2 separate regions of the Homo sapiens genome follow, and region 1 is linked to region 2. The links come from fine-mapping of genetic effects on gene expression. A gene starts in region 2. The other region holds a variant in brackets. All regions are shown on one strand. Distances are between the middles of the regions. Region 1 overlaps EIF3L (eukaryotic translation initiation factor 3 subunit L). Region 2 holds the start of LGALS1 (galectin 1).

What was found. PIP is the estimated chance that this variant, and not a neighbour inherited with it, causes the effect.
Region 1: its variant is the best candidate, but not a certain one, in a credible set for the expression of LGALS1 in memory regulatory T cells (Schmiedel 2018, PIP 0.76).

What each region holds. Positions count from the first base shown.
Region 1 is chr22:37,876,404-37,881,775 of GRCh38, forward strand. It overlaps EIF3L (eukaryotic translation initiation factor 3 subunit L), which reads left to right. Exons shown (of 13, transcript NM_016091.4): 11 at 1,271-1,768. Among named protein-coding and RNA genes, the nearest start is that of MICALL1, 27 kb to the right of the region's middle. RefSeq lists a silencer at 3,675-3,834. The variant T/TA (reference allele first, on the strand shown) is at 2,014.
Region 2 is chr22:37,672,297-37,677,668 of GRCh38, forward strand. It overlaps LGALS1 (galectin 1), which reads left to right and starts at 3,340. Exons shown (of 4, transcript NM_002305.4): 1 at 3,340-3,415; 2 at 4,690-4,769. The coding sequence starts at 3,407. RefSeq lists silencers at 3,143-3,282, 4,803-5,312 and an enhancer at 5,156-5,372.

The DNA.
Region 1 (5,372 bases), 200 kb after region 2:
GATTCTCCAGCCTTAGCCTCCTGAGTAGCTGGGACTACAGACGCGTGCCACCATGTCCAGCTAATTTTTGTATTTTTAGTAGAGATGGGGTTTCACTATTTGGCCAGGCTGGTCTCGAACTCCTGACCTCAGGCGATCCATCCACCTCAGCCTCCCAAAGTGCTGGGATTACAGGCGTGAGCCACCACGCCCAGCCAAAATGAACTTTTAATGGCTAGCATACTCTTAGGAGTTTCTGTTGTGATGCCTGTTACCTCAGATCATTAACATCTTGATGATAAGGACTTGATGATAATATCTTTTGTTTCAGTTATATCCTCCAGCAGTGCCTACATTTATTTATTCAGCATCAGTATGCTGAGTGTTCACTGGGTTCTAAATGTTTTGATATAAGGTGTGGATATTGGTGGGAAGGAGGATGGGTTCAAGAATTGGGAGGAGCTTCCTAGGCAGAGAATATCATGAGCAAAGTGGTTGAGACTTGAAAGTGTGGTGATGCAGCCGCACAATAAACTGTTCTGGCTGGAGGGCAAGTAGGTAGTAGGAATTGGGTTATTAGATTCTGAGAACCTTCATTAACCCAGGTAAAGTATAGTCCTGTGTCATTTGATGCTGCAGATACATTCTGAGAAATGCATCATTTGGTGATTTTGTTGTGTGAACATCATAGAATGTACTTACACAAACCTAGATGGGATAACCTACTACATACCCGGGCTACATGGTATAGCCTATGGCTCCTTGGCTACAAACGTCTAGAACATATTACTGTACTGAATACCATAGGCAGTTGTAACACAAAGGTATTTGTGTATCTAAGATACAGTAAAAATACAGGATTATAATCTTGCAGGATCACCATCCTATATGTGGCCCATGGCCCGTTGTTGACTGAAACGCTGTTGCACGGCACATTACTATTTAGTCTATATTTCTGTCGTCATCAAGGTTGCATCAAAGGTTTTGGGTAACTCGATCCTAACTGTGTAAAAGGATTGACCTGCTAGTGATGTGTGGGACAAACTGGAGAGACTAAGACAGAGGTGCCAGTAAGGAATCCAGAAGATGGCTAAGGAGGATCTGGAGCTAGGATGGAAGTTAGGTAGATCTAGAGGGAGGATTGGAAGAGATGTTGGGGAAGTTCAATGGCTGGTATGAAACAACTGGGTAAGTCAAAGATCTGTGCAGAGAATGGTGAGGCCAGTTGGCAGTGGGGACCTCAGGAAGTCCGTCTCATTTGACCCAGTACCACTCTCCACCCCATCCCCAGATTAACAAGCAGAATGAGCAGATGCATGCGCTGCTGGCCATTGCCCTCACGATGTACCCCATGCGTATTGATGAGAGCATTCACCTCCAGCTGCGGGAGAAATATGGGGACAAGATGTTGCGCATGCAGAAAGGTGACCCACAAGTCTATGAAGAACTTTTCAGTTACTCCTGCCCCAAGTTCCTGTCGCCTGTAGTGCCCAACTATGATAATGTGCACCCCAACTACCACAAAGAGCCCTTCCTGCAGCAGCTGAAGGTGTTTTCTGATGAAGTACAGCAGCAGGCCCAGCTTTCAACCATCCGCAGCTTCCTGAAGCTCTACACCACCATGCCTGTGGCCAAGCTGGCTGGCTTCCTGGACCTCACAGAGCAGGAGTTCCGGATCCAGCTTCTTGTCTTCAAACACAAGATGAAGAACCTCGTGTGGACCAGCGGTATCTCAGCCCTGGATGGTGAATTTCAGTCAGCCTCAGAGGTTGACTTCTACATTGATAAGGTATGCCTGTCCCCTGGGCTTGGGGTCTTGTATTAAGTGTTCAGTATCTTTCATTCACTATTGTGGGCACATGAAGTATATCGGGGAACAAAAAGATTCCTGGCCTTGTGGTGCTGCCACAAGGTGCCAGGTGTGGTGGCTCATGCCAGTAATACTAGTACTTTAGGGGAGGCTGGGGTGGGAGGATCACTCTAGCCCAGGAGTTCAAGACCAGCCTGGGCAACGTAGTGAGACCTTTTCTCTAT[T/TA]AAAAAAAAAAAAAAAAAAACACAAGAGATAAACAATAGATGGTTTTGTTTTGGTTTTTTTTTTGAGATGGAATTTCGCTCTCGTTGCCCAGGCTAGAATGTGATGGCACGATCTCGGCTCACCGCAACCTCCGCCTCCCAGGTTCAAGCCATTCTCCTGCCTCAGCCTCCTGAGTAGCTGGGATTACCGGCATGTGTTACCATGCCCAGCTAATTTTGTATTTTTCGTAGAAATGGGGTTTCTCCATGTTGGTCAGTCTGGTGTCAAACTCCCAACCTCAGGTGATCAGCCAGCCTTGGCCTCCCAAAGTGCTGGGATTACCAACAATAGATGTTATAATTAAACAATAGATGTTATAATTAAACAAACTATGTAGTAAGAAGTTGCCAAGCACTGCAGAGTAAAGGAAGGCAGAGGTGGTGGGAAGCACAGGTTGCAATGTTAAATACGGTGTTCAGACAGGCTTTGTTGAGAAAGTGAAGTTTAAGCTAAGCTAAGACTTGAAGGAGGTGAGGGAGTAGTGTTTTGGTTTTTTTTTTTTTTTTTTTGACAGTCTTGGTCTGTCGCCCAGGCTAGAGTGCAGTGGTGCAATCTCGGCTCCCTGCAACCTCCGCCTCCCAGGTTCAAGCAATTCTCCTGCCTCAGCATCCTGAGTAGCTGGAATTATAAGAGGCCGCCACCACACCTGGCTAATTTTTGTATTTTTAGTAGAGACAGGGTTTTGCCATGTTGGCCAGGCTAGTCTCAAACTCCTGACCTGAAGCGATCCATCTGGTGGAGAGTTCTTAATAGCTCACCAAAGGCTGGACACGGTGGCTCATGCCTGTAATCCCAGCACTTTGGGAGGCCGAGATGGACAGATCATGGGGTCAAGAGATCAAGACCATCCTAGCCAACATGGTGAAACCCCATCTCTACTAAAAATAAATTAGCTGGGCATGGTGGCGCATACCTGTAGTCCCAGCTACCCGGGAGGCTGAGGCAGGAGAATCACTTGAACCCAGGAGGCGGAGGTTGCAGTGAGCTGAGATCGCTGCACTGCACTGTAGCCTGGCAACAGAGCGACACTCCGTCTCAAAAAAAAAAAAAATAGCTCACCAGATATCTGGAGGAAGAGCCTTCCAGGCAGAGGAACAGTTAGAGCAAAGGCCCCGAAGAGGAGTGAGGCCAATAAGTTTAAGGGACAGTTGTAGTATGCCCGAGTAGCCTGAGAAAGGAGGCTGTGAAGATGAGATTGGAGAAAGGGGGATGGTGCTTTGTATACTGTTGGAGTACTTTACAAGTGGGAAGCCATTGTCCTGCTGCCTTCTTTATTTTTTTATTTTTAGTTAGCAATAATCACACCTCACATAACCCTCATTGGCCATACTGCCACTGCACAAAGCTTTTTTTTTTTTTTTGAGATGGAGTGTCATTCTGTCGTCCAGGCTGGAGTGCAGTGGCACGATCTTGGCTCACTGCAACCTCTGCCTCCCGGGTTCATGCGATTCTCTTGCCTCAGCCTCCTGAGTAGCTGGGATTACAGGCTCACACCACCACACCCAGCTAATATTTTGTGTATTTTTAGTAGAGACAGGGTTTCACTATGTTGACCAGACTGGTCTCCAACTCCTGACCTTGTGATCCGCCCGCCTCGGCCTCCCAGAGTGCTAGGATTACAGGCGTGAGCCATCGCGCCCGGTATTATTTTATTTTTATTTTATTTTATTTTATTTTGAGATGTCTCGCTCTGTCGCCTAGGCTGGAGTGCAGTGGCGCGATCTCAGCTCACTGTAAGCTTCACCTCCCAGGTTCACGCCATTCTCCTGCCTCAGCCTCCCGAGTAGCTGGGACTACAGACACCCGCCACCACACCTGGCTAATTTTTTGTATTTTTTAGTAGAGACGGGGTTTCACTGTGTTAGCCAGGATGGTCTCAATCTCCTGACCTCGTGATCCACCCACCTCGGCCTACCAAAGTGCTGAGATTACAGGCGTGAGCCACTGCATCCGGCTCTCTTTTTTGAGACAAGGTCTCACTCTGGTTGCCCAGGCTGGAGTGCAGTGGTGTGATCTCAGCTCACTGCAGCCTCAACTTCCTGGGTTCAGGTGATTGTCCTACCTCATCCTCCCAAGTAGCTGAGATTACAGGCGCACGTCACCACGACTGGCTAATTTTTGGTATTTTTAGTAGAGATGGGGTTTGGCCATGTTGCCCAGCCTGGTCTCGAACTCTGATATGTGCCACTGTTCCCAGCCGATTTTAAGTTTTTACTTTATAGAAACAGGGTCTCACTTTGTTGCCCAGGCTAGTTTCAAGTGATCCTCCTACCTTGGCCTCCCAAAATGCTGGGATTACTGGTGTGAGCCACTGCGCCTGTCCTGTCCTGATGTCTAACATCTTGGATTAGTGCTGCCTGTTTGTGAACTTTATATAATGGAATTACACAGTATGTACTCTTTAAGTCTGGCTTCTTTTGCTCAACGTTATAATTGAGTGAGTCACCGTCCATTGTGTGTAGCAGTGATTCCTTCATGTTTATTGTTCTGTGATAGTCCAGCATCTGCTGTTGTTATTGTACTGCAGTTTATCCATTCTCCCATTGATTAACGTTTGGATGGTTTGTATATTACAAAAAATACAAGTAAGGTTTTTACAGAGTGGCTAGTAATACATTTATATATGCCTATGTATGCCTCAAGTTCTTTCCAGAAGGATACACAAGCAACATAGCAGTAGCTTCCTCTCAGGAGGGGAGGTGGGTTGAAGAACAGTGTTAGTTTTCACTGGCACTTTTAAGTTCAAGCTGGACATTTTAATGTCTGATGAGATTTTCATTTTTATTTATTTATTTAGAGACAGAGTCTCATTGTATCACTCAGGCTGTAGTGCAGTGATGTGATCTTGGCTCACTGCCACCTCCGCCTCCTGGGTTCAAGCAATCCTTCTGTCTCAGCCTCCTGATTAGCTGGGACTACAGGCGCTGATGAGCTGATGAGGTTTTTAAAAGAATTGTTTTCTTTTTTTTTAGACTGAGTCTTGCTCTTGTTGCACAGGCTGGAGTGCAATGGCACAATCTTGGCTCACCGGAACCTCTGCCTCCCGGGTTCAGGCGATTTTCCTGCCTCAGCCTCCCGAGTAGCTGGGATGTACAGGGATGCGCCACCATGCCCAGCTAATTTTGTATTTTTAGTAGAGACAGGGTTTCTCCGTCTTGGTCAGGCTGGTCTCGAACTCCCGCCCTCAGGTGATCTGCCCGCCTCGGCCTCCCAAAGTGCTGGGGTTACAGACATGAGCCACCACACACGGCCGTCAGCCCAGGTTTTCTAAGATCAGCAAATGTCCATAGGGCAGAGGGGGTCTTCTGTGCTTTTCTTA
Region 2 (5,372 bases):
AAGTTGGCAGACACAAAGTAGGGGCGAGGGGAAGATGAGAGGGGAGATAATGAAAGCAAGGCGCCGGGCACAGGGCCTGGCAAGATAAGTGGGCGCTGCCACTAGGAGGCCCTGAGGACTAGGGGGAGGAGGCCCACGATGCACCTGTGTCCCTGCCTTCCCTCCCCGCCAGGAAAACCGCAGCTCCTGTCACAGGGGACACTGGAATCTGGAGAGACTTCTTGCCCCAACCTCGGCAAGAGGAGACTGTTGGGGACCTGTTGGGCATGACATGTAGACCTCCCAGAGGTGCTGCAAAGACCTAGGGAAGGTAACAGCCTGGGAAGAGACAAGAAGGAAGTGAAAACCTTCTGAGCCTCCATGAAAACACGAATCATCTGTTTAGTACAACAGACCTCAGTTCCACCCTGTATTCACCTCGTGCAAGGAAAGCAGGATTTCATCTCCCCAATTTACAGATAGGGAGACTGAGGCAAGTGGGAGAAGCAGCTTGCCAGGAGGCTCTGAGGGGACATAGCAAGCAGGGCCAGCACCCGCGTGTCTAGACTCCCAAATAGGCCTTTCTAGGGACCTCTTCACCATGCCACCCTGCCTCCCTGCCAGCCCCACTCATGCCAGACGCTGCAGAGGAGTAAATTGTCCCTCCATCCAACAGCAAACAGTCCCTGATGCCGGGCCCATTTTCCAGGGTGGAGGAGGATGCAGGAGCAGCTCCTGAGGCTACAAGAACCCAATTATTGGGCTGGGCTGGGAAAGTGGCCACACCCACCCGCCCGCAGCCCGGCGAGGACCACACCTGAAGCGCCTCTGACCCTCGGTCTAGGACTCCGCCTGAGATGCCCCATTCCTTGATCTGGCAGAGAGGGGAGGCATGGGGGAGGGGCAGTGGAACTAGGCTGGGCCCCATCCAGCCCTTCCTATGGTTGAGGTTTTGGGGAGGCCCGGAGGAAAAAGTGAAGCTGCTGTGGTTGGTTTCCAAGCAGCCACTTGGTCTGGAAGGAGGGGTAAGGCACTCACAGGGGTGCAACCCCATCCCCTCTCTGGGTCCGCCTTGCGGCCCTACACACTCCCCTCTCATCCTGTACCAGAGTGGGCTTTGGGCATCTGGAGGAAGGTGCCCCTGAGAGGCAGGGTGGGTGTGTTGGCCTGGCTTCCAGATGTGAGTCACTCCTGGTCCGCATCTTCGTCCCTCTTTGGTGCCAGCAGTTTCAGAAGGGGGACGGCCAGGTGGAGAAGGAGGTCCCCGTGACAACCCCCCAGCATGCCCCTCATTTTGCCCAGTGCTCCCCACGCCCCTTCCTCCACCAGGTTCCTGAGTGTAAGGTGAGCACCCCTCCCACCCACCCTCAATTCTCTGCCACAGTGATCTTCCCTAGAGCCCAAATCTGGCCTCAGTACTCACCCTCCCTCTAGCCCTGGCTCCCCAGCCTCCTCCCATACAACAATGTCCAAGCCCTGTGCCCAGCCCATGAGGCCCTCCATGGTCCAGGTCCTGTTGGCTTCCCAGCCTCATCCCCGTTTTTCCCCCACATGCCCGGAACACTGTTCTCCAGCCCTGGCCTTCTCATTCTGGAGCTTCTGCCCATGGTGGAAAGCCAGGCACTTCTCCGCCTACCCTTCACGACCCACCTCCTTTACTCATGCAGCCGCCAGCCCACCATAGCACTTTCTCATGGCTTCCCTTACAGCCATCATCATCTACTTCTTTTTATTTTTATTTTTATTTTTTATTTTTTTTAATTGAGACTGAGTTTCACTCTTATTGCCCAGGCTGGAGTGCAATAGACTGATCTCGGATCACTGCAACCTCTGCCTCCTGGGTTCAAGCGATTCTCCTGCCTCAGCCTCAGGAGTAGCAGGGATTACAGGCATATGCCACCATGCCCAGCTAATTTTGTATTTTTAGTAGAGATGGGGTTTCTCCGTGTTGGTCAGGCTAGTCTCGAACTCCTAACCTTAGGTGATCCGCCCGCCTCGGCTTCCTAAAGAGCTGGGATTACCGGCGTGAGCCACTGCGCCCAGCCCATCATCTACTTCTTAACGTGGTTGTGGTCAGATTCCACCCCAACTATGCGCTCCTTGAGAGTGGGGACTGGGAGGGGTTCAGCTTTGAATCCTCAGAGCCCAGGGCCAGGTACATAGTAGGTGCTCAGTAAAATACCTGCTGAACACTCAGGGAAGGGAGGGCTGTGCCGGGCCTCAGAGGAGATGTTAAGAGAGCAGACAGGGTGGCCAGGCATGGTGGCTCACACCTGTAATCCCATTACTTTGGGAGGCTGAGGCGGGTGGATCAACTGAGGTCAGGAGTTTGAGACCAGCCTGGCCAACGTGGTGAAACCCCGTCTCTACTAAAAGTACATAAATTAGCCGGGTGTGGTGGTGGGGGCCTGTAGTCCCAGCTACTCGGGAGGCTGAGGCAGGAGAATCAGTTGAACCTGGGAGGCAGAGGTTGCAGTGAGCTGAGATCACGCCACTGCACTCCAGCCTGGGCGACAGAGCGAGACTCCATCTCAAAAATAAATATATAAATAAATAAAAATAAAAAAGAGAAAGGACAGGGTGCACAGAGCCAGGACCCCACCCCCTCCTGGTCTGGACCACCCTGGGCCATCTCCTAAGCTTGACACTCTCAGGCCTGAGGCTGTCAGGCCAGGGCGCTTTGACTATCCCCTGCCTGCCCCTGAACGCGGCCAAGCCCGAGGCCTTAGCCAAGCCCTGCAGCCTCAGGCTTGGCGCCCGGCCCAGCCTTTCTTTAGCCTTCCCGAGGAGCCAGCGAGAGAGCGCTGCAGCAGCCGCAGTCCTTGCTTCCGGGGAAGGCCCGGGTGGGGCCAGGGCCTGTGGTTAAGTCAGTGGCCCTCTGCAGACGCGCACGCAGCAGGAGCCACGCCCTGGTCCCTGCCCGGGAGTGGCCTGGTCTCCCCCAGCTCTGATTCCCTGAAGGACCCTGCACCTCCTCAGCCATCTTCTCTGGGCACCCCCTGAGCCCAGCCTGCTGGCCACAGGCCCCTTCCCGCCAACTTGTGGGCCTAGCTCATCATCAAACTATTTTCCACTGGCTTCCCCCAATCTCTGCCACAGCACAATTTTGGTGGGGAGGTGGAGAGGGATGAAGGAGAATAGGAGGTGGAGCTTGGACTCTGGCCGGGGGCGGCGGGGTGAGGGGGGGCAGCAGCTCGCCACTCTGATTGGTCACCTCTGCTCCAAAACTGGCTTCAAAATTCCACGGACTCCGCCCCCAGTGGCCCCCAGCCCTATCCTGACTTGCAATTGGCTGAACTTTCAGGGGGCGGGGCTCACCCGGTCCGGTCCAGTTAAAAGGGTGGGAGCGTCCGGGGGCCCATCTCTCTCGGGTGGAGTCTTCTGACAGCTGGTGCGCCTGCCCGGGAACATCCTCCTGGACTCAATCATGGCTTGTGTGAGTGTGGGGACCCCCCCCCAAGGTCCAGGGGATAGGGCAGGAACTGATGGCCAGAGGAGAGCTGGGCAGATCGGGAGCAGATTCTAGCCCCAGCTGTGTGGCCTGGAACCAGTGCCTTCTCTTTTCTGGACCTCAGTGGCCACATCTGTAAAATGGGGGTGGGCGCCATGGTCCCTCAAGGCCTTCTCTGCATTGATAATTGTCTGGATTCCTCCAGGGTCTGAAAGCACAGTTATTTCTGCCCAGGGTTGACATTCTGCAGCTCTCTGAGAAGTGAGCGTGGGAAGGGTGTGGCCAACTGGGGGACACCCAGGCCACTATCCCTTTCCCCCTCCTCCACCCCAAAGAGCCTCCTGTCCCCTCCCCCCTGCAGCTGTCCCGGTCACCAGGCCAGGGCAGAGTTACCCTCTGCTCCAGAGAACGCTGAAAAGTTGCCAGGACCCGAGACAAGCTGCCCAGGATGGGCCCTTCTAGGTCGGGGGTGGAGGGTGGTTGTGTCCAGGCTGGTGGCGGGGGGGGCGGGGGAAATTCCCTTCCACCACCCCCAAGCTGGGAGGTTGGGGTGGCAGGGAGGTGAGAATCTTCCTCGGGCCCCAGGGAAAGGGTTCAAGTTTCTGGCAGAAGAAACCACTCAAACCAGTTAACTCTTGCCCACCCACTCGGGGTGCCAGGGAACAGCAGTGCCCAGCAGTTTGCTCAATCTTGTTAACCCTGAGCCAGCCCAGCCACAGCCCGACTGCAGGGCTATTCTCCCTAATGCAGAGAGGCCGTGTTTTTCAGGGTCTCCTCTCTAGCCCCTGGGCCTCTTTGCAGAGAGGGGCTTGAAGGAGAATAGTGGGGTCGCCCGCCCCTAGCCACTTCCTCTCCAGCAGAGGGGCCGGCCCCTCCATTCAGTGTGACGGTGGGCCAAGTGTCGGCCCCTCCCCAGCCTGATCCTCTCCATCTGCGATGGGACAGAGCACCCCATCTCCCAAGTCACTCTTGAGTCCAAAATTCCCAAGCCAATCTGCAAAATCTTCTAGAGCCTGTCTTCTAGAACCTTCACGTTACAGACTGAAGCCAACCCCGGTGGGAATAGGGACTTTCCCAGGACCACATAGACAATCGGAGGCTGGAAATTACAGCTCAATCCTTTCCCCAGGCTTCCCCTTGGCTTGGTCAGAGGATGCCGGGCGGGAACAACCCCACTCCCACCCCCAGCCACCCCCGGACACTTCGAGCAGTGGAGGCCTTGTCCTCTAACCCGGCTGGGCCGGGGCTTGTCTGTGCAGGGTCTGGTCGCCAGCAACCTGAATCTCAAACCTGGAGAGTGCCTTCGAGTGCGAGGCGAGGTGGCTCCTGACGCTAAGAGGTGAGAAGTGAAGTCGGGGTGGTGGGCGGCAGGGACGGGCTTGGTCCAGCAGGGAGGGCGTGGCCGGCCAAGCCCACATCTCCTCCCTGGCCGGGAGCGGGTTAACGGCCAGCCGCCGATGCTGCGTTTTCTGGGTGACTCACTTCCCCCGCAGGGTCTGGGCGCCCCCACCGTTGCCGCCCCCTCCCCCGCTCCCTCCCTGCTGTAGCCTCTTAAACTAAACCAGCTGCAGCCTCGTCATCTGTAATACCTTGACTCCCCCGCCCCCACCCCTTTCCGGTCTGGGCGGGACCTGTCGCTGGGGAGGGCGGGGAGAGGAGTGGGGCGGGCGTCACCGCCGCCTTCCCCCTGAGTCCCTCCTTCCTGCGTCTGGTCATTCATTCATTCACTGGCTCAGTCCGGTCCTTCTTCCTTCACTTCTCATTCACTCAGACGGCTGCCTTATTTTCTCGGCAGTTAGGTGACCTTGGACCAGTCAACCAACCTCACCTAGCCTCAGTTTGTTAGAAAAACAAGGGGGGAGGTGGTTGTGTGGAGGAAGTGAGATGCGGCTGGCGCAGTGACAGTGAGGAGGATGAGGATCAGCTGATATTGTTAAGAGCC